Homo sapiens: one gene and its partners. The protein of the gene in region 2 interacts with the protein of the main gene of each other region in a biochemical or structural test. Each region holds a gene or a part of one and is shown on either strand. Other genes may lie near its edges. The genes, in order: GTF2B, CTBP1, HDAC5 and ZNF366.

Region 1 (7,694 bases), on a different chromosome or scaffold from region 2:
TACAGTACTCAGTACAATACCACTGTACAGGTTTGTAGCCCAGAAGCAATAGGCTATACTATGTAGCCTAGGTGTGTTGTAGACTATACCATCTAGGTTTTATTAAGTACCATCTATGATGTTCATATGATGAAATCACCTAACGATGCATTTCTCAGAACATACCCTCATCAAGTGACATATGATTTTAATGCAATCTAAATGTACTATTGATATATGACATTAATATATACAGGTGTTTATGTCATATATTGATTTATATTCATGCAGTGTCATGTTCAATTTAGGTATTTCCAACTTAATTTGCTTGATGATAGTCTCAGCAAAACAGAACTTTGCTCCTAGACTCTTCTACACCTGCCCTTGTTTGGTAATGGAATGGATTCTTCGCTTACAAGATATATTACACATTTAACCACAAATATCTATGAATGAGCCTACCGTATATTTTAAAATAAGTGTTGGTTATATTTTATGTTAGAAGAATCAGTATCAAAAAGAAATACTGTCATATATTATAGAAAGTAAGTTTTATTGGATATGTTTTTCAGATCTCAAGATTTAACATGGTGTTTGATACTAGTAAGTCAATAAAAGCAAAAACAAAATTAACTTCCTTTGGTTTGATATAGCAGAAAAGTACAAGCAAAAATTAGGAATTCCAAGCACAAGAAAGCATACAAGTCTTGTGAATTGTATCTTCCTTTTTCAGTTGATTAATCTCCACTGTCTTGCTGGTTAAAGTGGAAGTGAGGCTGGTGGGAAGGCTGAAAATATAATGGGATACTTTTACATTATTTAAAAATGGGCCAGGTGCCATAGCTCACGCCTGTAAACTCAGAACGCTGGGAGGTCGAGGCAGGTGGAACACTTGAGGCCAGGAGTTTAAAACTAGCCTGGACAACGTGGTGAAACCCTGTCTCTACTAAAAATACAAAAATTAGGTGGGTGTGGTGGTGCATGCCTGTAATCCCAGGTACTCAGTAGGCTGAAGTACAAGAATCGCTTGAACCCCGGAGGCAGAGGCTGCAGTGAGCGGAGATCGTGCCACTGCACTCCAGCCTGGGGGACAGAGGGAGACTCTCACTCCAAAAAAAAAAAAAAAAAAAAAAAAAAACGCTACAGAGGTTAGGAGAGCTAAGAAGCTGAAATTATCTTCAATCTCATGTATGTCTGTCTCACTCGTACACATTATCAGTTTGATCTTAACACTGTGGAAGAACTGGAAGGCTCTCATTTAACTGAAGGGTTAAGCAAACATTTTCTGTAAAGGGTGACATAGTAAGTATTTTAGGTTTTGTGGGTCAAGAGGCAAAATTCAGGATATTAAGTAGGTACTTACATGTCTACTAATGAGGAAAATAAAATTCTCTTTTGGGGATCACATTTCACTTAATTGGAGTTCAAAGTTAATGTTCTCTATCAAAATCAATGACAAATGTTCATGTGTCAATGATGTTGTGTTAACAAGATTTTATGTATTTCACTTTCTTTTCGCATAGACAAGTAATGCCAAATACCGATATTAATCCACAAGTGTATGATTTTAATTGAGCATATTTATTGCTTGGAAGGCATTCATAGAATTGTATTACATTCTTCTCCTGATAATGGCCTTTTAACATACTGTTACACTGCAGATTAGTCACTACCAACTGAAGGTTAGATGGAACCCCCTTAACTGTACAGTGAAAACAAATTTTGAAATATGAAAATTTCCTTTGCATTTGCATTCAAGTCTGAAAAACACTGCTGAAAATATAGCTTGAGCCTGGAAAATATATCTGCTGCAAATCTATGTGGTAATGAACATCCTATTTTAACTTCTGACACCACTGGAAGTATATAAAGTATATAAAAGCAATTTGACATTACTTATGATTCAAATGTTAACTTGTGAAATTGACTTTACTGCACTTTATGTTTCACAGAAAAGCAGTATTTTGCCTTGTAACTCTATGATGAATTCATTAAGACATATTAGCAAGTTTGCAGCAAAAGCTAATTTTCAAAACCATCCAGTGTTCAACAGCAGTAGCCGAAGGCAGTACTGATTCAGAAAAATCTTACTCTTGGCCCCGAGTTCAGAAAAATCACAACAAAACTTTGCTACTGCTAAGTCACCAGATTAGTGTGTCATTAAGACAAGTCACCCTAACAGTATTTTGTTAGAAATATTCAGCTTCTATTTCTAACAAAATGTCACAAAACTGGCTGAGCATGATAGCTCACACCTATAATCCCAGCACTTTGGGAGATCAAGGCAAAAAGATCACTTGAGGCCAGGGTTCAAGACTAGTCTGGGCAACGCTGTGAGACCCTATCTGTACCAAAAAAAAAAAATTAGCCAGGGTCCTGCTTGAGCCCAGGAGTTGAGGCTGAAGTGAGTCATGATCGCACCACTGCACTCCAGCCTGAGAAACAGAGTGAGACTCTGTCTCAAAAAAAAAGTCACAGAACTGATATTGATAGTTACGTGCACAAGAGTGAATGAAGTTCATTGTTCACAATTACTGGTTAAATAACACAAGGTAGATTAAAGTCTTCTCTAACAAAGTACTGCTGATGAATAATGTAATAGGCTTTTTAAACACCTTACGTTTTCAATCTTGGCAAATCTGTTCCACTAAGTCTTCTGCTCCACATATTTTTACCCTTATCAGTTATAATAAATCTTAGCAGATTCCACCTCAGGTTATACTGAATTAACACTTTTGCAACTGCTTTGAAGCTATTTTCTCCTATAGCTGTTCCATGTAGACTACTCACTGGAGCTAGTTCTTCTGTCAAGCTCAGCACTGACTTTTTTTTTTTTTTTTTTTTTTGAGACAGAGTCTCACTCTGTCACTTAGGCTGGAGTGCAGTGGTGCAATCTCGGCTCACTGCAAACTCCGCCTCCCAGGTTCAAACAATTCTCTGCCTCAGCCTCCCGAGTAAGCTGGGATTACAGATGCCCACCACCACGCCCGGCTAATTTTTGTATTTTTAGTAGAGATGGAGTTTCACCATCTTGGCCAGGCTGGTTTTGAACTCCTGAACTCATGATCCATCCGCCTCAGCCTCCGAAAGTGCTGGGATTACAGGCGTAAGCCGCTGCACCTCGCCCAACACTGACTTCTTGAATAAACAACTGCAAAGCAGCAATAACATTGATCTAGTCATCAAGAGCCAAGGAAAAATATACCTGAGCTAATTTGCCTTAACTTTTAATTGACTACTGATGTTGCTCCACTGTCCTCAACTCTTCAAGCAACTGTTCTTGGTGAGATGCTAACAGTCTTAAATAAATTTATTTTCTCTGCATACATTTCTTCAGCTGTTGCAATCAAATATGAATTAACCTATCATTGGTAAATGGCTTTCCTTGCTTGGCCAAGAAATAAGCCACTTAGAAACTTTAGTTGCAGCCTCAGTTTCATTCTTTTATTTTTGTGAAAAAATTCTGTTGTGTTAAGATATTCTATTTTACATTATTTTCTGACCATTGTTTTCCTGAGTTAGAAATATTCTGATGAGTGCTCAGTATGGTAATGTCCACGCTTACTGTATTCTTTTAACACAGCTACAGTATCATTGTGTAATAAACACAATGTTTTGCCATCTAATTCAGTGACAAAATAATCCATACTCCACCATGCCTTAAAAGCATGACATTCAAAGTTAACTTTTCTTGTTTTGGTGTGATGGATATGTAATGGTAATAAAAACAAATAAATAAAATAGTGCAGTATGGCAACATATGTGGCGATCAACATGTTGCTGTTATAACTGCATCACTGCAATTAGTATGCTGAGCAGCAGAAAAAAAGTGATGAGAGCTGCACATGTGGTTTCTGTTGAAGCTACTAAGCTCTGCTGTTGTAATGTGAAAAGAGTCATATACACTATGTAAACAAGTGAGTGTTGCTATATTCCATTAAAACTTTATAGATACCAGGCCAGGTATGGTGGCTTACACCTGTAATCCCAGCACTTTGGGAGGCTGAGGCTGGTGGATCACCTGAGGTCAGGAGTTCAAGACCAGCCTGGCCAACATGCTGAAACCCTGTCTCTACTAAAAATACAACAAGTTAGCCAGGTGTAGTAGTGGGCCCCTGTAATCCCAGCTATTCGGGAGGCTGAGGCAGGAGAATCACTTGAAACTGGAAGGCAGAGGTTGCAGTGAGCTGGGATCGCACCACGGCACTCCAGCCTGGGCAACAAAAGGGCAACAAGAGCGAAACTCTGTATCAAAAAAAAAACTTTGGCCAGGCGCAGTGGCTCACGCCTGTAATCCCAGCACTTTGGGAGGCCAAGGCGATCGTATCACCTGAGGTCAGGAGTTCGAGACCAGCCTGACCAATGTGGAGAAACACCGTCTCTACTAAAAAAAATACAAAATTAGCTGGGCATGGTGGCACATGCCTGTAATCCCAGCTACTTGGGAGGCTGAGGCAGGAGAATCACTTGAACCCGGGAGGCGGAGGTTGTGGTGAACCGAGATCACGCCATTGCACTCCAGCCTGGGCAACAAGAGCAAAACTCCGTCTCAAAAAACAAACGAAGAAAAACTTTATAGATACTGAAATTTGTATTTTCACATGTCCTAAAATATTATTTTTGATTTTTTTTAACCATTTAAAAATGTAAAAGCCAGAATTAACAAATAGGCCATATATAGGTTGTACTTTGACGACCCCAGATTAAAATTTTATTATTATGAAAGGCAATACAAGATAGAAATCTGCCTCCCACGCAGACAATGGAGCCAGTCTTCTAGACTACCTAAACGTCAGTTTCCTTATCTGTAAAATGAAGATAATGGTAGTACTCACCTCACAGGTTTGTTGTGAGGATAAACTGAGTGAATATGTAAATCATTTAGAATAGTGCCTAGTATATAGTAAACATATTAGCTATTAATATTCCTTACTCAGCAGAATACGGTTGCAAATGATTCTCAATTCCTATTAGCAACTCTATACTTTAAAACTCCCACTATAGGTCTGAGGCAAGCAGCCTTCTTGGACCAAGTAAGTCAAGTCCACAGTATGCCACTACTAATGCTTCTGTTATACTGCCCACAATCCTTCTAGAATTTTCATTCTTAAGTAATTCAAACTGCTAAATATTACCCCTATTCTCAGATGCTACAACTCCACCACAAGAATAATTTTTGAACAGACTATCTGTAGTCTAAAGTTCTGCTGCATATCTAGATTAGTGTGCAAGTAGGAACAAGGTGAAACTTTAAGTGTTATTTTTGGCAATAATTTTATACAAGATATTCATCAATAGATGACTGTATAAAAGTTATAATAAATCTTCTTTTTGACTAAAAGGCTTTAAGTGGGACTCAAAAATCATGTTTATCTACTTCCCAATGTATAAAAAAGCCACAAAAGTTTGATTACATGTATTCATTATTTAATATGCATGAGTGTCAGCCCATCTCTCCAGTCCTCTACCAAATATTTCAGACTAAGGACTTATGAAATTACTGGGGCCTTTTCGTTTCTTCTGGATTAGCTCCCACCCCACATTATAAAAATATACATTTGGATATACAATAAAATATATCTCTGAATAAGTTTACTCGTTTCTGTTTCCTAATTGTTTTTTTGCAATAAATTATTTGTTGGGGAAGAAAGTCAAAAATGTGTTCATTAAATGATAGTTTGGAAACTATGCAAAAGTGAAGGACCCTAAACATTATTATTATTATTATTTTTTTTTTGAGACGGAGTCTTGCTCTGTTGCTCGGGCTAGAGTGCAGTGGCACGATCTCGGCTCACTGCAACCTCCGCCTCCTGGGTTCAAGCCATTCTCCTACCTCAGCCTCCTGGGCAGTTGGGATTACAGGTGCCCACCACTACGCCCGGCTAGTTTTTGTATTTTCAGTAGAGATGGGGTTTCTTCATGTTGGTCAGGCTGGTCTCGAACTCCTGACCTCAGGTGATCCTCCCACCTTGGCCTCCCGAAGTGCTGGAATTACAGGCGTGAGCCACCATGCTTGGCCTCCTGAACAGTAATTTAAATTAAAACCATAATAACAACTCACCTACAACCAAGCCACATTCAGGACAGATCATATCACCGGCTCTGTAGTCCTCCACTAAAATCGCATCTGGATGGTTTGGACATGTGACTCTTGGAAGAGCATCCAAACTAAAAGAAAAAAGTTGTATTTTTACATCTTCCCAACCAACATGTATCAAATTAATCTTCTGGGATGGGGGATGGGGAAGACAAAGATTGTGAACGTTTTTTCATACATACAACTGTAACACATATAAGCTAGATTTTCAAAGTAAACATCCCAGTTAGGTTATTTTAAATTCCAGCTAGTAACTGGCAAGTAGTTTCCACTGGAATTCTTATTTTATTGTGGAAGGCTTTCAAAACATAAATAGAAAATAATTGTTTCTTCTCTCAATATGTATGCCAGTAAGACTTTTAGAAATGTTGATTAGTATAGTAATGACTAGTTACCGTAATAACCTGCAGCATTTACATTACCATCCAGTTTGTGCTCTTTGCCACTTATTTCTCTAGTCAGAGAACAATTTCTCTCTGTATTTTTCTACTTGTTAACTACTTTAGTAACAGATTTAAATAGTACACTGAACCCAGTAAGTATAGAAATGAGGGATGGTAGAAGTTGCTCTGCTGAACTTAAGACTTGATGATTTCCTTTAGTCCAGAATTGAGTTATTGAATTTATCATTCAAGAAATTGTTTCAAAAGCTACTTGTTATCTGTGATATTAATAATTAGCTCAATTTATTTTGAACAACAAAGCAGTTTGCAGAAGACACATTCATCTTTTTTTGACACATTAATCTTAAATGATCTGACAGAATCAGCTGTAAAAGCAACAAAGATTTGATCATTATTTCAGGGGGTATGACCTCACAATCATAAATTCTTGGTATCACTGCAAATAAGGCCCTTTTAAAAACCATCTGAAATACAATAAATGGTTAGGTTATGGACATCAGATACACGTAAAAGACAAAATCAACTGTTCTTATAGTATGTAAATAGTATTTGTGGTTTGGGGTAAAGTTTCTCATGCTAGCAAATACAATTCAGAATGTTAACTCTCAACTCAGAAGGTGATATCTACGGGAAAACTGATAAAATAATCCATATTCCCCCCTAAACTTATCTAGTCAGCTTAACTAGAATATGTCTTGAATCTTCTCATTGGGAACACGGGGGGATGAGTATTACTTCATATTTGTGTTTATTCCATAAATTCCTCTAAGGAAAGTATTTTAATAAATTATGACAAATAAAATTAAACAGTTGATATAAATTATGAAAAACCATGTTGAAATAAAGGAAAATGTTAGCAGAGTAACAGTAATTACAAATTAGTAAAAGAGGAGGCCATGTGCAACACGTGCTAAGAACTAATATCTCTGCAGTATTAAAAAGTAGATAGAAAACTATAGTTTGTGTAATGATACAGAAACATCTCAAAGATATGAAGAGTGAAGAATAAGGTAGAAAACCTATACAAAGCTGAAAAGTATGAACTAACCATACACCATAACATGGATGAACCTCAAAATACTAACAGAATCTAGACAGCAGAATACATATGCCATTTATGACAACTTTAAAGCAGGCCAAATGAATTGATGGAGTTAGAAATCAGGATGTGGTTTTCTCAAAGGAGGGGGAATGACTGAGGACAGAGACTTTGC
Region 2 (7,694 bases):
GCAGTGTCATACGGGTTCTGTGGTTGAACTGCATCGCCCAAGGGAACGCTGGTCGGAGCGCCGGGTGGAGCGCCAGGGTCCTCTGGTGGTCGCTGGATGTTGGTAGTTGTGGGTAAGAGCTCTGTGCCGGGAGTGTCTGGACCCCCGGGTCCTCCATTGTCAGCTGCAGTGGCCGGAGCCCACTGCTCTCCCCCGCACTGGGTCGTGGTAACCCACAAGGTGCCACCTGCGTCACTGACCATCGTTTCCAGAAGCCCCTCCGGCCACACATTCCATGTGGTATCTCCCACAAGGAAATGTTCGTTTTTTTCCCTGTGAAGCCAGAAATTTCTTGGTGGCTCTTTGCCGAGCCAAACGTTAACCTTGAGTTGTCTCTCTGGGCGGCCCCAGGTGGTACCAGTTCTCACGGGTGTTGAAGGAGAGTGAGGATGGCCCTGAGGGAAGCCCAGTTGGTTTGGTTGGGGAGGCGTTGGGGCTATGGCCCTGAGAGAGGTGTGGGCGGTGTTGGGACCAGGCCCCTTCTGCACCCTCCCCTGGCACCGCCGTTAACTCTCCAGGCCTGGTGTGGCCCAAGCCACCCTGCCTACCCGTGCTACCCTACCCACACGTGCCACCCTGACCTGCTTGTGCCATCCTGCCCGCCCGTGCCACCCTGCCCACCCGTGCCACCCTGCCCTGCCGCCCGTGTCACCCTGCCCGTCCATGCCACTCTGCTATGCCGCCCGTGTCACCCTGCCCTCCCGTGCCACTCTTCCCTGCCGCCCGTGTCACCGTGCCCTCCTGTGCCACCCTGACCTGCCGCCCGTCTGTGGTGTGGGGGCTCCTGGGCTGCCCTGTCTGCGTGGCTGGCAGGAGCCTCAGAGGCATCCGAGGCTGTCTCTCCAGTGGTGTCGTGTGTAGACTGTGTTGGGAAGGGGAGGAAGGTGTAGCCCTGATACCCCACATGTGGTAGGAGCCAGGAAGGTGGCGTTCTGGGGGTTCCTGGAGCTCACAGGTTGTGTGCATGTGCTCGCTGAACAAACAGGGAAACGTGCGGCTCCACGGATGTCCTGGAGAGGAATCTTGCTGGCAAATCCATGCCTTTGATCACAGCCCCTGCGCTGTGTCCTCTGAGCTGTGATGCGGCCCTGCAGGCCCCGTGGAGTGCGGTGGCTCCCTGGCTCACAGGGATGCTGCCGTCCAAGGTGCCGTATCGGCTCGTGGATGACTTGGGCAGTGTCTGTCTGGGGTGCTGTCGTCGGAGGAGCTGTTTCAACCTGTGGGTGACGGGCCTTGTCTGTCTGGGGGAGGTTCTCTTGGCCCCGTGCTCTCAGCCCAGTGGCTCCATGCTGCTGTGCGGCTCCCTCTTGGGGGCCTGCCTTCTCTGCCATTGCAGGGCAGGGCCTCAGTTTTCTCTGGGCGGCAGGTGGCTGTATCTCAGGACTGGAAGGCTCCGGGTCAGGCTGTGCACAGCCTTCGTTCATGTCAGCCCCTGGCTGGGCAGCACCGCCAGGCCCTAGTCTTTGGGCCTCCAGGCCTGGACAGCCAGAGGGGGCATCTCACCAATGCCCAGATGGCTGCCGGGGACTCACGGCAGGGCAGCTTTGTCACGAGAGGGCCACTCGAGCCCGGAGTAATCAGGGCTTATGGGGACAGGGCAGGGTGAGGGCCGCTGAGACCACCCAGCCTTAGGGTGCCCTTCTGGTGGTCGGGGAGCCCTTCCTGGGCAGCGGCTTTAGGGGCTGCTGTGGGGAGGGGGAAGAAGATGGGGTTGGTGAGGAGGAGCTTTTGGGACACTGTCCTGGTGGAGGTCGTGAGGGAGGGGAGCGGACCGGTTGGCCCAGCAGGGCTGGCCAGTGGAGGGACGTGGAGGGTTGGTAGCTGCCGAGCCTGGGTCTGAGCAGGCGGGGATGAGGACCAGGTGCTGAGGCTGGGGAAGGAACAGGGGTAGCTGCTTGGTCCTGGCGCATCTTGGTGCCCCCTGGGACTTCCTGGAACACCCCCCCCCCAGTGCCCAGAGACCCACTGTGGCTGTCTGGATCGGGGCAGGTCCCAGCCCATGGTGACCCCCAGTGTGCCGGGGCAACCCGGTCCCTCTCCAGACCAGAATGGACCGATGCCCAGCACACACGTGGATCGGGGCGGAGTGGGCAGGCGTGGCCAACAGGAGGGAGGATCCGGCAAGCAGATGGTGATGTGCATCCAGAGACAGGGCGTTGACATGTGGCCAGGAGGCTCTGGGGTCATCGGGCCGCCACCGTGCAGCCCCCCGGGACTTGATGCCTCCAGAGAACCTGGGGGCTGCTGCCCCTCACCTCACCCCCATTTACTTTAAAATCAGTTTTTGTTTTAGAGCAGTCTTAGATTTACAGGAAAATAGGAAGCACAAGCTTCCATGTGCTCTACACTCACTTCCCTCGTGGGTCCCTTGAGTGCTTTCTTACAACATGAGGTTAAGCGTCTGCAGGGTGAGAAGCTGGAGACTGTCCTCGTGTCGCTGGGCTGAGAGCCGTGTGCGGCTGTGAGTTTTTGATGAGGAAAAGCAGTGTGGGTCCTGGATTTGGACAGCACAGGCCCCTCTGGGAGCCGTGTGCCTTCACCTCGGAGTGTGTGGGCAAGGTACAGAGCTGGAGCCCTTGACCCTGACCGGCCAGCCAGGAAGGCCGTAGGAGGCCAGCTCCCTGGCGTGAGGTGCGCAGGGCCTCTGGCATTGCCCTAGGTGAGGGCTCCAGGACTCGGACACTGGCTCTCAGTGGGGCAGGTGTGGCCCGGCAGGGGGCGCTTTGTGGGTGCACAGTGGCCCCAGGGTGGTGCAGATGGTGGGCAGACCTACCCCAGGGCTGTTTCTGAGACAGAGGTCCCTGGAGGAGAACCAGGTGCTGGGCCTCAGGTGTCTGTCCTGAACTGGAGCAGCCTTGGAACAAGGAACCACAGGAAGTCCCTGTGGCATGGGGTGCAGCCCCTCAGGTCTGGCAGGGCTAGCCCAGGGAGTGCAGGGCCCCAGGAGCCCTGCCACAGGTTCCTCAGCTCGGGAGCTCACGGCCTCCTCACTGCAGGGTCCTTTCAGGAGGGCCAGGGTGGCCTTCACACATCTGCTTCTTCCTCAGAGACACAGGTGTGGGCACGTACTGGCCAGTATAGATAAGCATTGAGCAGCATTGATGGGTATCGATGATCCTCCAGGAGCAGCGGCTGGTGCCATGCTGCTGTGGGCAGTATTGAGTATTGGCCGGTCTTGACGAGCAGCAGCCGGTACTGGGCCACCGTGGGTAGCATTGATGAGTATTGACTGGTATCAATGAGTATCAGCCGGTATCAATGAGTATTGGCCCGTATCAATGAGTTTGGCCAGTATTGATGAGTATTGGCTGGCATTGATGAGTATCGGTTGGCGTTGATGAGTATCGGCTGGCATTGATGAGTATCGGCTGGCGTTGATGAGTATCGGCTGGCATTGATGAGTTTGGCTGGGCGTGGGTGGCGCGGTGCCTTGCCCCCTGGCCAGGCTGGCTCGTGGGTGAAATGTGACATTTAGGCGGTTTTCTCCTGTCCTTTTAGTTTGTTTTTATGTGGTATCCGGGTACCATGGGGAGATCTGGCATTCAGGGCAGGAGGCTGCAGCGCAGGTCATGGGGGCTCAGGCGCAGGTGATGGGGATCCCGCTCCACAGTGTTGCTCTTGGGCCCTCCGTCAGGGAGTCCCACACAGCACCTGCCATGAGGAGTGGTGTTGGGGACCCTGGATGGGAGGTGCGTGCGTGGGGCTGCACCCCAGCCCCTGTGATGGTGTCTCTGGAAGCTGGAGATGGTCGGCATGTATGCTTGAATCCTGCAGAGGGAGTTGAGGGTTGGAGATTTGTCTGCGAGGCCTCTGCGCAGGGGCGGCCTCACAGCACACTACCAGGGTCTTAGGCTTGGCTGAGTGGCCCCTTCTGGCCTGGCAGGCAGTCGTCTCAGCCCACGCCTGCCATGCTGCTGGGCTGGTGGTGGCCGGCTCCTGTCCTGGTCAGCCTGATGTCAGCTGCACGTTGGGGTCAGCCTCGGTGCTGTGTCTTCATGCCAGAGCAGGGGCCAGGTGTGGGCAGCTCAGTGACACCCTCCCGAGGGCTGGGCGATCGTGTGCACTCTCAAGCCTCTACTGGAAGGCTTGGCCCTCTCAGGGGCCCCCTGCCCCTGTGCATTCAGCCACTGGGGTTCGTGCCCTCAGCTTCCCGCCAGGCCCTGGCCGTAGCGGTCAGGAAGAGCTGAGCAGTTTTTTTGGGAGAATTGAGGGAGCGTCGCCAGGATGCACTGAGGGTCGGAGGTGGAGCCGGCGCGGCTCAGTGCAGGCAGTGCCAGGCTGGATGCTGGAAAGCCAGCAGCACCTCTCCCGGTGGCTCCTGGGAAGTTCCACGTCCTTGCCTGGTCACAGAGGCCCGGGAATCAGTGACATGAGATAGAAGCTTCCAGAACAGGAGGCAGAGCCTTTCCGCAGTTTCCCTGCCCACAGCACACACCCTGTGCCCTCCGTCCCCTGGTTCTTGGACACTGGGGACATCTGGATGCGGCTAGAGCCTGTGGGGGTGGCCGCAGCCCTGGGGGACTGTTCCCAGGAGTAGGCCTCGGGGCCACAGGGGCGCGGCCTCGGGCCTGGCACTGCAACCTCAGGGTGAGCGCCCTTCGTGTGTGCGGCAGGAGCCGGGGCCCCTGGCTGTCAGCAGGCCCCCGAGTCCAGGTAGGTCCCAGACAGCAGTCCCGGGTGTGGCAGATGCAGTGAGGTCCACTTCTGAGGCGTTCCCTGGAGTCTGTGAGTTCTGGTCGGACCTTCGATGGCATTTTAATGTGTCTCTTGTGTTTGATTTTTAGTAAGACTTTGACCCCGACGCAGGCTTCAGTGATTGCCGCGGATCAGAAGCCTGAGCACTTTGGCTCGAGACAATTAAGGACGTGGGATGAGGCTCCGAGACAGGACGCGGTTCTGCCTGGGGATCCTGAAGATAAAAAGCTTTGAAAAGTCGAATTCATGGTCGTGGAAGCTGAGCCCATATTAAGAGATGTCAGGTTGGTAGGGGTTCCTGGCGTCGGCGGCAGAGTGAAGCCGGCCGGTCTCTTTGCGACCGTGTGGAGGAGGCACTGCCTCGGATCAAGTCGAGGGACCTGGGCTGCATGGGCGTCGGGCCGGACTGCTGCCACCTGACCCCCGGTGTGCTCTGGGCGAGGTCAGGTGCCCCTCGAGGGAGGGCTTCCTGCACACCTGGTGGCAGAGCACAGCTGTGGTCAGGCCTGTCCGTGGCATCTGCTGTCTGTTTCTGTCGGAAAGTGTCTGAGAGGCACGGAGGGCCTCCATGTGGAGGCCGCCAGCACGAGGGTGGAGCCCCACACGGAACCCTGGAAATCTCAGGTGTCCACCCGGCTGGCCCAGGAGCAGGGCCGTGGCCCCTGTGGAGCTGTTCCTTGTGGTTGGTCTGCGCTCTCTGGCCCGGAAGTGCGTGCAGTCGGAAACAGCCTTGGGCTTGGGGGATGCTGCAAAGCCTGCTTCAGCACAGGCCGTGTGACTGTGAAGCCTCCTGGGTGTGTCCCCAAGCCTGCAAGGGTGGGCTGTCCGGGGAACCCTGGCACGGTGGTCAGGGGCAGCTCATGGGTGATGTGAGGAGGCACCTTGGGTGCCTGAGCCTGATGGGGCTTGGTGTCTCCACCTGCTCCCCCCTCCCCACCGTTCAGCTGAGGGACCCGGTTCCCACTCACCCAGCACCCGGGAGTCCCCCACGCGGTTCCGACGAGGGACCCGGTTCCCACTCACCCAGCACCCGGGAGTCCCCCACGCGGTTCCGACGAGGGACCCGGTTCCCACTCACCCAGCACCCGGGAGTCCCCCACGCGGTTCCGACGAGGGACCCGGTTCCCACTCACCCAGCACCCGGGAGTCCCCCACGCGGTTCCGACGAGGGACCCGGTTCCCACTCACCCAGCACCCGGGAGTCCCCCACGCGGTTCCGACGAGGGACCCGGTTCCCACTCACCCAGCACCCGGGAGTCCCCCACGCGGTTCCGACGAGGGACCCGGTTCCCACTCACCCAGCACCCGGGAGTCCCCCCAGGCGGTTCCGACGAGGGACCCGGTCCCACTCACCCAGCACCCGGGAGTGCCCCACACGGTTCCGACGAGGGACCCGGTTCCCACTCACCCAGCACCCGGGAGTCCCCCACGCGGTTCTGACGAGGGACCCGGTTCCCACTCACCCAGCACCCAGGAGTCCCCCCAGGCGGTTCTGACGCAGCCGAGCGGTCTGCAGTGATCCCGTGTGTCCATGCCTTCCTCATCAGAAGTGAAATCCAAGGATACTGAGAGCGGATGTCTATCCACTCACTCAGAAACAGCAACATAAACCTTTCTGCTCATGAGAAGTCATCACCACCACACACAGCGGGGAGGGAGGCCACGTGCAGAGGGAGGCCATGTACAGTGTCACTGGGCGGCCTGTCTATGGTGCTCGTGGGCAGCTCCCGTCCAGAGGGAATGAAGGAACAGGCGAACCAGGACGCGGTTTTGACCGTGCAGACCTCACGTTTGGGATCTGGTTTCCTATCTTGAAGGAAAGTGGGTGGAATGGCCAGTGGCTCCTCCGAGGACGCCAGGGCGCGAGGACCTCACGGGAGGGGCATGGGCCCAGCCGTACTGGGAGCCCTCGGCTTTGGGGTGGTCAGTGGAGACCCATGCCCCGTCCCCTGCAGGCGTGTGCTGCAGGCCCACTGCACCCCTGGGCTGTCCACCAGAGCATTTCTTTTCTCTGCCATGGGTTCCAGGAGGCACTTCCCTGCTTCCTGGATACTGGCAGCTCGGTGGCCTCTGCTCACCTGCAGGCGGATGGGGCAGCGGATGGGGCGGGAGACTGGGCCGAGCGTGCTTGTGGCCGCGGCCACTGGAGAGCCTGCTGGGTCACTCTGCTCCTTGGTTCTGTCGTGCGCCTCCCCTCCTGCTGGCCGAACGGTCCTGGGTACTGCTTGGTCTCCTGTGGCCGGTCTTTGGAGGAGGAGGGGAGGGACCGGCTGGGCCCTGGCCCCAGCTCCGCCTCTGCCCAGCTGCCGTGGGGCTGACAGTGGCCCCACCTGGTGCTCCCTGCCTGGCACGGGGCGGTCGGGCGGTGCCTGGAAGCTGCCATGCTTCTGTGACGCCTCAGAGCCCTTATTTCTCCAGTTGGCCCCGATGAGGCTTAGTTGCGTCATACGCGAAAGGAATGGGTGTTAATGAGCTTTAATCATCTGGTTCTGGGAAGGTCAGGGGCACAGAGTGGACTTTAACAGGTTTTAACCCTTTTCTTCCTTTGTTCTGTTTCTTTTCTCTTCACATCTATAATTGGAAGTAATGCCAGGCAGAGGGTTGGGGGCGTCCTACGTGAAACACTGGTGACCCCATCAGGGATTCCGGGCAGCCACGCGGTAGCCCAGGCAGGAAAGGGACAACCATGTTCCCAAAGTCCCGTGCTGTCATCTTGTGTCCTCCAGTGTCCTGGGTCCCTCCTGTCCCCCTGCCTCATGGAGCTGCCCTGGGGTCTCGGACGGTCTGGGAGGGTCTCGGGGGGTCTCAGAGGGTCTTGGAGGGCCTAGGAGGGTCGGGAGGTGTCTCGGTGGGTCTGGAAATGTCTTGGGGAGTCTCAGAGGGTCTGGGAGGTTCTCAGAGGGTCTGGAGATTTCTTGGGGGGTCTCGGAGGGTCTTGGAGGGTGTGAGAGGGTCTCAGA
Region 3 (7,694 bases), on a different chromosome or scaffold from region 2:
CTCAGGCAGACAGACTGGAAGGAGCTGCACTCTTTCTTCCATGGGAAGGAGCAACTCTGTCCCCGCCCCACCAGCCCCCAGCCAGGCCTGTACCTCAGTGGGGATGTTGGGGACTGAGCCAGTAAAGCCATTCTCAGCGATGGTGCTGTGGGAGCTGTTGGGAGAGCTGGGGCCGGAGCCGGGTGCGCTGTTACACACGGACGACGCTATAGGAGAAGTGGCTGTCACCTGGGCCTGCTGTGAACTACCCCCGACCCCTGATTCCCAGACCCTCAGAACAGGTACATGAGAGCAGCCCTTACCCCCAGGCCCGGCACCTGTGATCTCAACAGCTCTCTTCTTAAAGGTGCTAATAACAGTCCCATCCTTGCGACGCAGGAGGGGACTGCTTCTCCGCTCAGCCACCTTCTGTTTTAGCCTTGAACGCACTTTCAAGTTGGGTTCAGAGGCTGGAGAGAAGGTAACCGAGGTTCAGATACGCGCACAGCAGCACACATCTGCAGCTGAGCCCACTGGGGTCAGGGCTGACACTGCCACAAGCCCACCTCTGCCTCCCAGGAGCCATATTCTGGGAGGCCAGGTGGGGGACTCACTCACCTGTTTTGCGGAGGGGGAAGTCGTCTCGACTGTCGTAGGGCCCAGGCAAAGGCAGTTTGTAGGAGGGAGGCGTCCCAGGGGGGCCGCTCTGGGGAGGGGAACTCTGGTCCAAAGAAGCATGGTGGGCTCCCCTGGGGTGGGGGGGGGGTGGGGATGGAAGCAGATCTAGGTTATCACCCAGTCTGCTGGACCTGCCACCTGGCAATCTACATTTATGAAAAATCGTTTGTATATAGGAAGAGGACGTGGATCTTGGGGAAGGAATGAGGAAATAAACCAGGGATGGGGGTCCTGTCTCTAAGGAGAGATTGCAGGGCCCGTATATGGGCACGGGGAAGAAGCCCCTTGCCATCCTATAGCCAGGCAGCCCCTGAGCGGCTCACCTATGCCCACCCATGCCTGCCCAGGGCCATTACCAGCATTTGGGGTGCTGTGGGAGGGAATGGTTGAGGCCGCCTGGTGTGGGCTCCTTTGACTTCGACAAGAGGAATTCCTGGAGCCTCAGCTTTACCTCAGTGCTGGCAATGGCACCTGCAGGACAGGGCACAACTGACCTGGCTGCTTGGGGCCAGACCCCCCATGGCAGGGGCAGGCATCACGGGCGGGGCCCTACGAGGTCCCAGGAGGCCCTGCCTTACTCTCTTTGCTCTTCTCCTTGTTCCGCAGGATGAGCAGCTGCTGCTCCAGCCGCTGCTTCTCCAGCTCTTCCTGCCGCTGCTGCTCCCGCTGCCGCTGCTGCTCCAGCTCCTGCTGCCGCTTGGCTGCCAGCATCTCCTGCTGCTGCTTGGCTGCCAGCATCTCCTGCTGCTGCTGCAGGGGCATGGGAACGGAGGCACAAGTGAGCCAGGCCCGGGCGGGGATCGGAGGTCTGGGCGGCCCCCCGCACCCCCCTCGCTCACCTTGAGGTGCTTCTGCAGCTGGACCTCATGCTGCCTTGTCAGGTGGTCATGCTGTTTCTGGAACTCAGCGAACAGGAGCTGCTTCTGCAGCTGCTGCTGCTGCTTGAGCGCCAGGAGCTCCTGCTGCAGTTGCTGCTCCCGCAGTGTGGGGTCCACAGAGCCCACCAGAGCCCCCCGTAGCTCCACAGGGCTGGGGCTGCCTCCACCCCCACCCCCCATGGAACTGGGCATGGCTCTTGGCAGCACCGGCTTCACCTCCACTGTGGGCAGAAGAGACAGGAAGGAGTTAGTGGGCCCAGCCCCAGACTCCAGTCATGCCTGAGGCCCAAAGGCTACCACGCAGGATTCTAGGAGACCCAAAGAGAACAGAGACAGAGAGGAAGTCAAATCCCTCTGCTCCATGGATGCAACATTTTACCTTAATTAAATGAGGCTGAAGCCATGAACTTCAATAGGAAAATACAGGCTGAGCACGGTGGCTCACACCTGTAATCTCAGGTTAGTTTGGGAGGCTGAGGCAGGCAGATCACCTGAGGCCAGGAGTTTGAGACCAGCCTGGTCAACATGATGAAACCCCCTCACTACTAAAAATACAAAAATTATTTGGGCGTGATGGTGCACACCTGTAATCCCAGCCACTCAGATGGCTGAGGCATGGGAATCTCTTGAACCCCGGGAGGCGGAGGTTGCAGTGAGCCAAGATCATGCAACTGCACTCTAGCCTGGGTGACAGAGCAAGACTGTCTCCAGAAAAAAAAAAAACAAAAAACAAAAAGGGGGAGGCCGGGCGCGGTGGCTCTTGCCTGTAATCCCAGCACTTTGGGAGGCTGAGGCGGGTAGATCACGAGGTCAGGAGATCAAGACCATCCTGACTAACATGGTGAAATCCTGTCTCTACTAAAAACAAAAAAAATTAGCTGGGCGTGGTGGCACACGCCTGTAGTCCCAGCTACTCAGGAGGCTGAGGCAGGAGAATCGCTTGAACCCTGGAGGTGGAGGTTGCAGTGAGCCAAGATCGCACCACTGCACTCCAGCCTGGGCGACAGAGCGAGCCTCCATCTCAAAAAAATAAAGAAAATGTGCATAAGCATGAAGCTGTACCTGACAGATTGTGACTACTCGACGCATTTTATGTATCTGTGTGTGTGTGTGTATATATATGTGTGTACGTATGTGTGTGTATATATATATATACACACACACATACATATGTGTGTGTATTTATCTCTCTACCTATATATATATCAGAGACAAGGTCTTGCTCTGTCGCCCAGGCTGGAATGCAATGGCATGATCGTGGCTCATGACAGCCTCGACCTCAAGCAACCCTCCCACCTCAGCTTCCCAAGTAGCAGGGATTACAGGAGCATGCCAATGCACCAGGCTAATTTTTAATTTTTTAGTAGAGACAGGGTCTCACTATGTTGCCCAGGCTGAATTAAACTCCTAGGCTCAAGCGATCCTCCCACCTCAGCCTCCCAAAGTGCTGGGATTATAGGCGTGAGCCACTGCCCAGCCTTCAACACATAATATTATCATTGATAGTCAACATCTCTGGGCATTTTACAATGACTCATTTAAATATCACAGTTACCCTATGACTTAGATGCTATTATTACCCCATTTTACTGATGAGGAAACTGAGGTTTAGAGAAGTTTAAGTAGCAACCAGACACAGCTAGGTGATCCAATAACTAGAATATGAGTCCAAATCCTAAGCTTTTAACCACTGTGCCCGCTCCCATTTCTCAACACCGTGCCCCATGCAAAGCCTCATACTAGAAGAGAAACTGAGGCACAGAGGTTGGTTCTAGGACTGACAGTGCCCTTGGTAACCCCAGGAGAGGCTGGTGGAGACCTTCTGGATATCTCTACCCTCTGTCCCCTTCTGGGGCCTCATCCCTATCTGGGGCAGACTGGGCAGGAGGGAGAGGCTGTGGGAATGGGGGTGGGGTGGGAACAGGAGGCCTCGGGGAAAGGGGGTGCAGGGCTGCACCAAGCCAGGGACAGGAGGGGGCTGGGAGTCAAGACTCGCTTCCTTTGCTGGATTATCTCCTTTCAACAGTTTTATTGTAATTACCCTGAAAATGCCGCTATATATAGAGTGAGCCAAACAGCAGCTGTGCCTGGGGGGAGGGGGAATAAGAGGATGGGCGGGCAGGCAGCAGGGAGGAGGTGGGAGGAGGAGACAGGAAAGGAAAGGGAATCAGACAGGAAGAAGGGTAACAGCAGGGGGAGGGCAGGAGCTTCGGCAGAGATCTCAGAACTCTGGTCTTACGGAGAACCGGCTGGGGAGAGGAAGGCTGCTGGGGAGGGGAAGGCAGTGGAGGGCCTGCTGGGTTCCAAGACCTTGGGTCCAGTCCCCACATGGACAATGGGCCGAGTGGCTCAGGGAGTGCACGAAGTTCCAATGGGCTTATGGGAGGGCTAGGTCTCCACTTCTTTGTACCTACACACAGTTCTCAGGTCACTGCATGTCACTCCTCACCACTGCCCTGTGGTTGCCAGGACAACTGGGCAAACACCACACCAGCAGGGAGCCCCAAGCCCAGCCCAAGCCCCACAAAGTCTCCAGCCAGGAAGGGGAAGGCAGGATACCACTGCCTGGGAAGGCGGAAGTGAGAGAGGCAGGCCAACCCATTCCTGTTTCTCTTCTACTTCTTTCTCCAAAGAAAGCCCTCACTCTCCTCGCTACAGCCCAGGGAGGTCACGAGGGGCTGGGAAGACTCCTGTGGCAAAGTGGCCCACTCCAGCCCAGGCCTGAGAAAAAAGGACCCCGAAATCCTTCTGGCTACCAGTATCTTCTGCCTTCATGAGCTGGCCTCTCTCCAGACCACCCCCCAGCATTAAGAGGCGAGAGAGGGAAAAAAAAAACAAAAAACAAGTTTTGGTTTTTTTTTGTTTTTTTTTTTTTTGGAGATGGAGTTTTGCTCTTGTCATCCAGGCTGGAGTGCAGTGGCACAATCTCGGCTCACTGCAACCTCTGCCTCCTGGGTTCAAGCAGTTTTCCTGCCTCAGCCCCGCAAGTAGCTGGGATTACAGGCACCCGCCACCACGCTCAGCTAATTTTTTTGTATTTTTAGTAGACACAAGGTTTCACCATGTTGGCCAGGCTGGTCTCAAACTCTTGACCTCAGGTGATCCGCTCGCCTCGGCCTCCCAAAGGGCTGGGATTACAGGCATGAGCCACTGCCCCTGGCCTTTTTTTTAGATGGAGTCTCACTGCAACCTCCGCCTCCTGGGTTCAAGCAATTCTCCTGCCTCAGCCTCCCAAGCAGCTGGGATTACAGGCGCCCACCACCAGGCCTAGCTAATTTTTGTATTTTTAGTAGAAACGGGGTTTCACCATGTAGGTCAGGCTGGTCTCGAACTCCTGACCTCAGGTGATCCACCCGCCTCGGCCTCCCAAAGTGCTGGGATTACAGGCATGAGTGACCACACCCAGCCGAACAATTTTTAAAGAGAAGAGAGGGAGGTGGGAGGTAGGAGGTGGCAAAGGGTGGGCTAAGAGAGGCCCCCACACCTGTTTAGATGGGTCTGGATCTCTCCAGAGAACCTAGCACTGAATGGGTGTCACCAAGGCAGGAGCAAGGCCTGCTGGAGGCCGAGGCCAAGGCCATGCCACCCACATGCCTGGAGTATGGCCTCTGGAACCCCCTGCAGGCAGGGTGGGGTGGGAGAAGGTAAAAGCTCAGCATGATGTAGCAGTCCCCACCAGCCTCTTCTCCCCCAGGCATGGTTGGGAACATTCCTCTGTGGTTTTCCCGCCAGCCATACTGACGACTCTGTGGCCACAAGGCCAGAGCCACATGTGCAGAAGTGGCCAGATGTGGCCAGAGGGTGGGGTTACACATACTCATCTTCATTCCCAACCCATGTCCTGCCCCAGCACCAGGAGAAAGGGTCCTTGGAAACTGCAGAAGGCCTTCCTGGAGGTAACTAGCCACAGCCCACGATGGTGGCAAGGAAATGGCAGCCAGCTCAGGTCTCCCCAGCCCGTGAAGTGCTCAGCAAGGCCCTGAGCTGGCCGGAGGGTTATCTGTTCTTAGTCAAGCTTGGCTTGGCCCGTGGCACTCTGATCACTCAGCCAAGCAATGGACAGCCGTCAACCTGCTGCTCCCGGCAATGCCGGGGTTGTAGGAGCCAGATTCCAGCCTGCCTGCCCAGGGAAGGGCAGAGGTCCAAGCACTCCTGGCTCCCAGCAGATAACCCTGCCTAGGGCTGGAACTGTCGCCAGCAGTACTGGCTTCCCTTGCAGGAGCCCTGCAGAGAGCACATGGGCTCAGGCAAGGGGAATCTCCCACCAGCCTGTCACTGCCACTGCAGCAGCAGAGATGTTAGGCCCGGAGCTGCAGCGGGAACCACAGCCCTATTGGTATGCAGGTGGCAGGGCAGGCAGAGGGCTCTGCCATGCAGCCTCGTTCCCATGCAAACAGGAAGCACAGGCGACTCCAGAATATTAATTTGCAGGACCTGCAGGGACTGGGTGACATGCAGCACCCCAGGGGTTTGCCAGGTAGCAACCTGCTCCACCCAAAGTGGAAGGGGCCATGGCTACTCTGCCTGAGTCAGGGAAAGGAGGGGCATGGAGCCCCATGAATAGAGTCTGCCCAGGCACAGACCCTGGAGCCTGGCGGGCCTTGCACTCTCTCAAGGATCTGTGCCCTCTGCCAGCCTGGCATGAGCAGAGCAGGTGGCAGCAGTTGCCATCAGCACCAAGCACCTGGAAGGGGAAGTGGTTGTGTCATGATAGGAAGAGGCTCTTGGCCGCCTCCTGGTGGACTAGGAAGGCTGGGGAACCTCTGGGAAAAGAAGAGGATAGACAGGCCCGGGGCGTGGTGGCCAGTTACCCAGGGCTGTCTCTTAAAAAAAAGGGAACCTGGGCCAGGCGCAGTGGCTCATGCCTGTAATCCCAGCAGTTTGGGAGGCTGAGGCGGGCGGATCACCTGAGGTCAGGAGTTCAAGACCAGCCTGGCCAACATGGCAAAACCCCATCTCTACTAAAAAATACAAAGATTAGTTGGGTGCGGTAGCGGGCACTTGTAATCCCAGCTACTCAGGAGGCTGAGGCAGGGAGAGTTGTTTGAACCCAGGAGGCAGAGGTTGCAATGAGCCCAGATCATGCCACTGCACTCTAGCCTGGGTGATAGAGCGAGACCCTATCTAAAAAAAAAAAAAAAAAGAGGGTAGACGAAGGGGCACTGTTCCCTAAGAGGACAGGCCAAGAGCTCTGGCTAGCAAAGAGCCCCACTGAAAGGCCAGGGAGAGCCAAGCGTTGGTGGCTATAATCCCAGCATTTTGGGAGTCCGAGGCGGGAGGATCACTTGAGGTCAGGAGTTCAAGACCAGCCTGGCCAACATGGAAAAACCCCATCTTTACTAAAATTACAAAATTAGCCGGGTGTGGTGATGCATGCCTGTAATCCCAGCTACTCGGGAGGCTGAGGCAGGAAAATCACTTGAACCCGGGAGGCAGAGGTTGCAGTGAGCCAAGATCGCGACATTGCACTCCAGCCTGGGCAACAAGAGTGAAACTCTGTCTCAAAAAGAAAAAAATGAAAAGAAAAGAAAGCCAGGGAAAGGTTCACAGGGGAGGACAAGGACCTGGGTCCTTCCCTCACCTGCCAGGACTTCACTCTGATGGGAATCGAGAGGCCAGTAGAGCCACCTCCTGCAGAGGTCAGAGGCAAGGCTCTGGGGGAAAGCCTTGGGCCCCCCGCACCCAGCTCTATACTTTCCTCTTTCCCAGCACTGAGAACCTTCCTTCTCCTGGGAGTGGTGGCCTCAGTAACAAGCAGCAGCACCATCCTGACCTCTGGTTTTCTGCAGGGCTGACCACCCTGCCTCCATGGGAAGTCCCAGCCTGGGTTGCTGAGTGGGTGGGGCTGTGTGTGTTTCGTTTTTTCTTTTTTTTTTTTTGAGACGGAGTCTCGCTCTGTTGCCCAGGCTGGAGTGCAGTGGCGCGATCTCGGCTCACTGCAAGCTCCGCCTTCCAGGTTCACGCCATTCTCCTGCCTCAGCCTCCTGAGTAGCTGGGACTACAGGCACCCGCCACCACGCCCAGCTAATTTTTTGTATTTTTAGTAGAGACGGGGTTTCACCGTGTTAGCCAGGGTGGTCTCGATCTCCTGACCTCGTGATCTGCCCACCTCAGCCTCCCAAAGTGCCAGGATTACCAGCGTGAGCCACCGTGCCTGGC
Region 4 (7,694 bases), on a different chromosome or scaffold from region 2:
TGAAGATATTCTAAATTCTAAATTCTTATAAAATAAAAGAGTGTAGAGTTTAATGTATTGATATTCATCTTCACGAATGGCAGAAATGGCAGATTTAGCTTCACTGAATGCAGCTGTATTCAACACAGCTCAATGCAGGGGAAAGTTTGTCTCGGGATAAAAGTTTTCAACTTAGATGAACGTGCAAAGAGAGTTCAGTTATATTGTGGACATTTTATTCTCCCTTTCACCCACTTCCCCAACTGCTTGAGCTCTGTGTTATTGGTGACCTTTTCCCTGGTTGTGGAGGGCTGGAGACACTTTTTTTGGAGACCATCGTGGTTGTACCATGACTCAGCTAAAGAGGAAAGGACTTAAAGTGACACATTCTCCTCCTGCCCAGGGCTGAGCACACTTGGGGTTCTCTCTCCTCAAACATTGTAACAGTGAGCCACTCACCTTCACACAGAGAAACAGAACACTATATATCACCATGGGTGTGCGTGTGTGTGTGCATGCACGCGTGTGTGCGCGCGCATGTGTGTGTGCGTGCGTGTGTGCGTGCGTGTGTGCATGTGTGTGTGTGGTGCCTGATTGATCCAACTGCTATTTTTCTTTCACTCTAAACTTTAAAACCTGTATGACCGTTAGTTTGTCAAGTAATAATGATACTTTTACTTAGGTCTTAGTTAAATTTCTCTCCACTTTCCAAAAGCAAAACACACAACAGCAAGAATAACAAAAAATCTACCACCAATAACCAAAGCCATTCAGGTCCTTTTGTTAGACTGAGAGCTTGTGAAACAACAGAGACATGTTTGGACACTTAACCTTAGGGACAAATCGAAGCTGAGTTGTTCTGCACTAACGTGCAAAAGGTGCCCTCTCATGTGGCTTGGTGGAGTAGAAAAAGACCAGATTGGGAGTCAGAACACTGCTGTTCTCATCCAATCTCTGCATTTCCTATATGCATGACTTGACAGGTTGCTTTACTTGCTTGGATCTCAATTTTCTCATCTGTGAAATGACAAAATGGGATAAATAAGTAATTTTCGAGGTGTGCGTGTGTGTGTGTGTGTGTGTGTGTGTATTAGAATTCACCTACGGGCTTGTTTATAGTCTCCTCCTGCCCTGTCCACTTCATGGGATGATCTGTGAGACCCTTTTGCTGACATGCTGTGATTCTCCAAAACAGATGGTCAGTGTCTTGCTCCGTCTTCTTCTGGATGGCATTAACATTAACTGTAAATGCTCGTTTTAAGAGCCATGCTTTTAAATGGAATTCCTATTCAGCACTGGATGTTCTCTCTAGAAGATAGTTCTGAGTATATCAAATGTTATTTTAGAAGCTATTAGTATTATGGAATAAGGAATGTCCTAGCCGGTTGAGCAATCTGATGATAATGATCAGTGTTCTAGAACCATATGTAAATCACAAGATCAATTACTTAGATCTGTAAACATTATAAATCAATATAAATAGCACTTTTTTTTTGAGACAGAGTCAGGCTCTGTCACCCAGGCTAGAGTACAGTGGCACAATCTTGGCTCACTGCAACCTCCGCCTCCCAGGTTCAAGTGATTCTCCTGTCTCAGCCTCCCGAGTAGCTGCGATCACAGCTGCCCGCCACCACGCCTGGCTAATTTTTTGTATTTTTAGTAGAGATGGGGATTCACCATGTTGGTCACACTGGTCTCGAACTCCTGACCTCAAGTGATCCACCTGCCTTGGCCTCCCAAAATGCTGGGATTACAGGCATGAGCTACTGCGCCCGGTGGAATAGCACTTTTTGATTTATCCATTTCTATATTATTTGCATCTTAGAGTGAGCATGTATTTGTTAATCAAGAAAAACACAGATACTAAGCTTTTTCTATTCCCTTTAAAAAATATTAGTAGATTCTATCTCATAAGGTTTTGTTTCTTATTTTTTTACAACGTGTGCTGTGATGAGCCTATTTTACAAGTTAGATCCTTGTCCCTAATTTAATGGTGATGTAGAAAGGCAAAAAGATTGATAATGGTGTTTGAAAAATCAGCATTCACAGGTCATATTGTATGCTTCAATTATAAGGAAAATATAAACCTTATAGAAAAAGTTGTTCTAAATTTCCTGATTGAGTTTTTACCTAAATCACTCATTTTTTTCTTATATGTTTATATGGATAATGAAATAAAGCAGCAATGGACACAGATCTCCCTCTGACAGGAACATAGAGACAGCAAATAATTTTAATGTGCACCCTCAGAAACAACTAGCCTAATGAAGGCTGTTCTTTTAGACTATTCAAAAACCAAATACATTTACATAAAACAATGGTATTTACATAAAAGAATAAGAACATGTCTTCATCCAGCGTTATGTGTAATACATAAGTTCACAAGAAAGGAAGCAGCATGAGGACAGGGACTTTGTTTTGTCCACTGCTGTCTGCCCAGGGCCTACAATAGCACAGAGCCTGTCATAGATGCACAATAAATATTTGTTAAATAGATGAGTTAATGAATCAGTGGGCTGTAGAATGAAAGATGCTATCTTTATACAATGCCAAATGAAGCCATTAATTTGAAAAAAAAAAGTTAGTCAAACTTTTCTGGAGTCTAGACAATGCCAAACTGCCAGCTTGATGGATTTATCCCTCACCTGAATTGACTGGAACTATATGGGCTTGTTCTGCTGTTGTGTGCATGGGGCTGCTACATGTGTATTAAAATGTCGTCTTGGCAAGCACCCCCACCCATTTGTTCATGGGAAATTAACATTTATCAGATAGATACACAGAAAAGACTGTTGTTGCATTTTATTTTCCATTTATTTTCTGGGCAGATGATGGGTTTGCAAATTGTTTTTGGCGAGACAGAGAACGGTCATTTGTTTTTCCTTGACTAAAAGAGCTGTGAGCCAGGATCCAGCCTTGTAGGAAGTGTTCAGCTCTCTGGTTTGTTATAGGCAAAGGCTGTGAATCCAAGCTAAAGGAATGCCACTTGGGCTGAATTGACAAAACACCATGGGGTAAATTCAGGGAGAGAAATGTGATACCCTTGTTGAGCACAATACCCTTTCCTTTCTTTAATTCAAGCCAATTGAAGAAGGCCAAAACCACTGGATCGAGTCAGTTTTATACTTATTTGGCAAATTTAAAGTGGCAAATCTAAACACCTAGTAACAAAAGTTGGGATTTTGGATGATGCTTTTTACATTTAACAACATTGGGGTTCTAGGTGTCTGTTAATTGGAGTAGAAACTGAAAAGGCACTCTCTATTAACATTGATAGAATCTCTCTTTAGTGTCAAGTACCAGGGCACACAAAGAGAATACTGGGCAATTCTCCTATATTCCTTTGATAGATTATGGCCCCACTCTGACCTCATTCTTTGATGGCCACTGATACTAAATGGGAGAGTGATTTACCAACAACGGCACTGCCACCACCAGCGCCAACAATTATGGAGGAGTCATTACTAGGTTTGGGGCCTCCTCAGAACTTTAGATACTTCATTTCACTTACCCCATTCTCAAGTACGTGCCTTATTCTCCTCATCTTAGAGCTGAAGAAAGGCAACCACCTTGTTTAACAGATAAACTACAGAAAGTACGTGATTTGCTCAAGGTCAGTAAATTAATGTTGCTTGTTTTCAGTTTCCTTATAAGGAAAAAGTGTCATCTGTAGCTAATAATTTCTTTAAAACAAATATGTATCCTTTAAGGTAGTAGCCTTCAAATGGGGTCCAAAGACCAACACCATGGCACCACCTAGGAGCTTGTTAGAAATGCAGAATAAATCCCAGCTCCACTGCAGATCAACTGAATCAGAATCAGCATTTTAACAAGATCTCCAAGTGACCAGTTGCACATTCAAGTCTGAGCAGCACTGCCTTATGGTTTTGGACTGTTGCACACAGATTGATCAGGGAATGTAGGACTCTATTCCAAGGAGTTACAAAGCCATTTGTTAACTTTGACCTTGTCCAAGACAACATACCTCCCTATTAAATAGTGGCATTACTGGACAAGTCTCCAATCTATTCAGCTCTGAGCAACAGTAGGCATGATTTCTGTGATCTCTCCCATGAAGTTAACTCCATATCATGGGATCCTAGCACTCTCAGAAAGGGCGAGGGTATTATTTTCAGGTGCTTTCTGAGCACCAATCATCAGAGTTACCTGGGGCAGATTTCTAGGCCTTTCCCCAGATCTAACAAAGCTGAAGAGGGGACCAAGGCTCTGCTTATTATTCAAGCTGCTGGCTCAGGGTAAGGAAGCCCCCAGGGAGGGTAGTGATGAGTATTTCAGGCAGATTACCCTAAAAAATAGTTTAGCTTTTTTCAGTAGCTTGAAAAAAACATTTAAAACCATAGTGCACACATTAGGGCACCGCAGAGTTCTTCCAGGAAGAAAACGTACTCTGCCGCTTTCTTCCTTTGAATGCTTGAGAATAAGGATGAGAAATCTTGCTGTCTGCCCTGTGTCTTCCTCAGGGAGAAAGGGAGGACCCGCTTCTCCAGCATCACAGCCAAAGAGGAGACGCCAGTCCACACGCCTCCCTCTTCCCAGTGAGAAAACTCTGTGGAAAGAATCCTTAGAGTTTCCTTTGCACTGGGGACTCACCGTTCTCTCTTGGAACAGAAATCAAGAGGAGACTATTGTTGGAGGGGTGGGGGAAGGAAGCAGCGCCGGAAGAGAGCGAGGGAGAGGACCGGAATCGCCTCTGGTTTGCTGAAGCCTGGACAAAATGGGGCCTCTGCCTGGATGGAGCCCATGGCATCTCTCCCGTGACTGAGGCCCTCTGGCCACCTTCCATGGAAAGTGCAGGGAGATGAGGAATTTCAGGTTTTCAGCGCTGTTTAATGGAACGCCTACCTCCATAGTGTCCACCACTTGTTTCTTGCTGTTTTTCTAGTTCAGGCATTTTCTTTCCCACGACACGGTGGAATTTCCTCCTCTCACCCCTACTTCCAGAGAACTTTTTCAGTTGTTTTTTTCTTTTTTAAGTACAAAGAAGGGTCTTCTAGCATTATCCTAAAAAATCTATATATTGAACATTTTTAGGGTACCAAAGAGTTCTATGCTTAATCTATAAAGGCGGGGTTGGTGACAGAGCGAGACTCCGTCTCAAAAAAAAAAAAAAAAAAAAAAAGGCAGGATTCCTGAAGTGCTAGAATTTGAATTCTTAGGGTGAGGAATATGTGAAAAGTTCTGAAAGGTTGCTGGCAGGCATATCCAGAATCTCACCTCCTACCTGGCTTTTCAGAGATCTGGGCAAGGAGGGACTATTCCCAGCATCGTCTTTCTTGATATTCAGGAAACAATCAGTGATGCAGCAGGCAAGCAGGCGTTTCCTCCAACATGGTCTGCAGCCCTCCTAGCACCCAGTGATTTCATGGCACAATCACCTGTCTCTGGCTGGGGAGAAGTCTCCAGGGGCAGAGAGTTCTTCTGGTGGCAGCCTGGGCCTCAGATCTAAATGGGGATGTTTGTGAAGGAATAGAGACACCAGTTTTGTGGGTAACAAAGTTCTGCTCAAAACTGCATCATTTTGCAGAAGGCAGTCCCATTCCATGTGTCTTCACATCCTCCATATGTTCAGACACATCCCACTATTTAGAATGACTGACATTGACTCTTTTCCCCCTTGAGTCTCCTAGGAGAGAAATTTCAGCATCACATCTTTAATACATGCAGTTGGGAAGGACATTTAATGGTGAGAAAATCCCATTTCAGAAGGATTAGGACATAAAATGCCAAATGTATTTGCTCTTCAAGCAATATGGATATTTTGGGAGGAGCAGTGGTTTGCTGAAGTGCTATCGCTAGGTACATGGTACATGTACCTTACACTTGTGTATACATACACACACTGCCTACCCAAAATCACTGGTTGTTATAAAAGATTATGAGCCAATGGGTTAGCCCCAAATTGTTTGACTCAAGAATGTAGTATCTGATGTTCAATCTCTTAAACTTCCAAACAGATTTACTGTCCTAATTATATTTTTCTTAGTGATGTTAAAAAGAGTTTGAATATTGTTAGCTAGTGGGGGCAGGGAGAAAATGAGAGAAGATTTAAGTGTTACTACTAGCAATTCATAAAGCACTTCATTCACTTACTGTGTGTTGTTTTGAGAATGTGAGTAACGCAGGAAAGAATGCTACTTGGAGTCAGAGAATAGAGGATTGAGTGTGTGTACTGACACATGAATGGATGGCAGATCAGTGAACTAAAATGTATATGGGAATTTAGTACATGATAAAAATAACATGTATATCAGCGGAGAAAGTTGAATTATGTAATTAATGAGATTGGGACAACTGGGTAGCTATTTGGGAAAAAAATAAACTTATATTCCTACTTGATTTTTTAAATTAAAATAAATTCCAGATAGATGAAAGACTTAAAATGTTAAAAATAAAAATATACTGTGAACTTAAAATTTTGCTTTAAAAAGTCTTAAAGAAAACATAACAACTGTAGAGATATTTTTTTTTCGAATCGCAGAGTAGGAAGGGCCTTTCTAGTTTTACGCAGAGGCCTTAACATTTATCATGCATTTTATTGCATTACAATAAAAAGCTTCTGCAGGGCCAAAACTCAATAAACAAAGCCAAAAGACAAACAAAACAAAAAATGGAGGAAGCATTTGCAACATGTATCACAAAGAGCTTAGTATAAACAGAAAAATGAGCAAATGACATGAAACACATACTTCACATAAAATGAAATATAGTTGGCTTATAAACATGCACAAAATAAAAGATATTTTAATTCATAATAAGAAGCAGCAAATTAAAACTATGAGATACCAATTTTTATTTACTTGATCGGCAAAGATGAAACATTTGTTAACACACTTATCTCTGGGGTTCTGGAGAGAGCTCTCAGATATTTCTGGTGTAACTGAATTAGCAGAACATCTACAGACAGCAATTTGTGAATGTCTATCAAAATGTAACATTGACTCCTCTTGAATTTATCCTATATAAATAAGATGTAAAAAGACATACCTACAATGCAATGTATCTGCCACAGCATTATTTGGACAGAAAATAATTAGAAATAGCACAATTGTCCATTAATAACAGACTGGTTAAATTAGTACAGGGCATCTGTACAATGGAATATTGTGCAGACCTACTAAATGAGGGAACATAATAGAGTCCAGAAATGGACTCTCAGTATATGTTCAATTGATTTGACAAAGGTGTCAATGAGGGGAAAATAGTCTTTTAAACAAATGGTACTGAAACGATTCCATATCCATAACAAAAGAAAAAATGAACTTTGGCTCTTATCTCACACTATACACATGTATTAACTTGGAGTAGATCATAGGCCTGAATGTAAGTGTTAGAACTTTAATATTTCTATAGGGAAACACAGGAGAAAATCTTTGTAACTTTGGCTTAGGCAAAGATTTCTTAGTTACGACGCAAAACATGAAATACATGAAAACATTAATAAATTAGACTTTATCAAAATTAAAGACTTTTGCTCTTCAAGAAAAAGATACCGTTATAAAAATAAAAAGACAAGCGGCAAACTAGGAGAAAATATTTGTGAAACATATCTGATAAAGGACTTGTTTTAAGAATATCTGATAAAGGACTTGTTTTATACATATTTTAAAACTCTTAAGGGAAACAACCCAATTTAAAAATGGACACAAATTTTGAATAAATACTTAAAAAAGATATAGAAATGGCAAATCAGCACA

What was found.
Region 1: the proteins of CTBP1 (region 2) and GTF2B form a complex in vitro, tested with the Homo sapiens proteins (one study listed by BioGRID).
Region 3: the proteins of CTBP1 (region 2) and HDAC5 form a complex in vitro, tested with the Homo sapiens proteins (one study listed by BioGRID).
Region 4: the proteins of CTBP1 (region 2) and ZNF366 form a complex in vitro, tested with the Homo sapiens proteins (one study listed by IntAct).

The regions. Positions count from the first base shown.
Region 1 is NC_000001.11:88,881,221-88,888,914, forward strand, and holds part of GTF2B (transcription initiation factor IIB), read right to left. Parts: intron 6,148-7,694; coding exon 6,041-6,147; intron 1-6,040. UniProt on the Homo sapiens protein: General transcription factor that plays a role in transcription initiation by RNA polymerase II (Pol II). Involved in the pre-initiation complex (PIC) formation and Pol II recruitment at promoter DNA.
Region 2 is NC_000004.12:1,238,649-1,246,342, reverse strand, and holds part of CTBP1 (C-terminal-binding protein 1), read left to right. Parts: intron 1-4,823; 5' UTR 4,824-5,011; coding exon 5,012-5,018; intron 5,019-7,694. UniProt on the Homo sapiens protein: Corepressor targeting diverse transcription regulators such as GLIS2 or BCL6. Has dehydrogenase activity. Involved in controlling the equilibrium between tubular and stacked structures in the Golgi complex.
Region 3 is NC_000017.11:44,092,079-44,099,772, forward strand, and holds part of HDAC5 (histone deacetylase 5), read right to left. Parts: intron 1,757-7,694; coding exon 1,497-1,756; intron 1,408-1,496; coding exon 1,236-1,407; intron 1,129-1,235; coding exon 1,014-1,128; intron 729-1,013; coding exon 598-728; intron 450-597; coding exon 303-449; intron 207-302; coding exon 94-206; intron 1-93. UniProt on the Homo sapiens protein: Responsible for the deacetylation of lysine residues on the N-terminal part of the core histones (H2A, H2B, H3 and H4).
Region 4 is NC_000005.10:72,496,905-72,504,598, reverse strand, and holds part of ZNF366 (zinc finger protein 366), read left to right. Parts: intron 1-7,694. UniProt on the Homo sapiens protein: Has transcriptional repression activity. Acts as a corepressor of ESR1; the function seems to involve CTBP1 and histone deacetylases.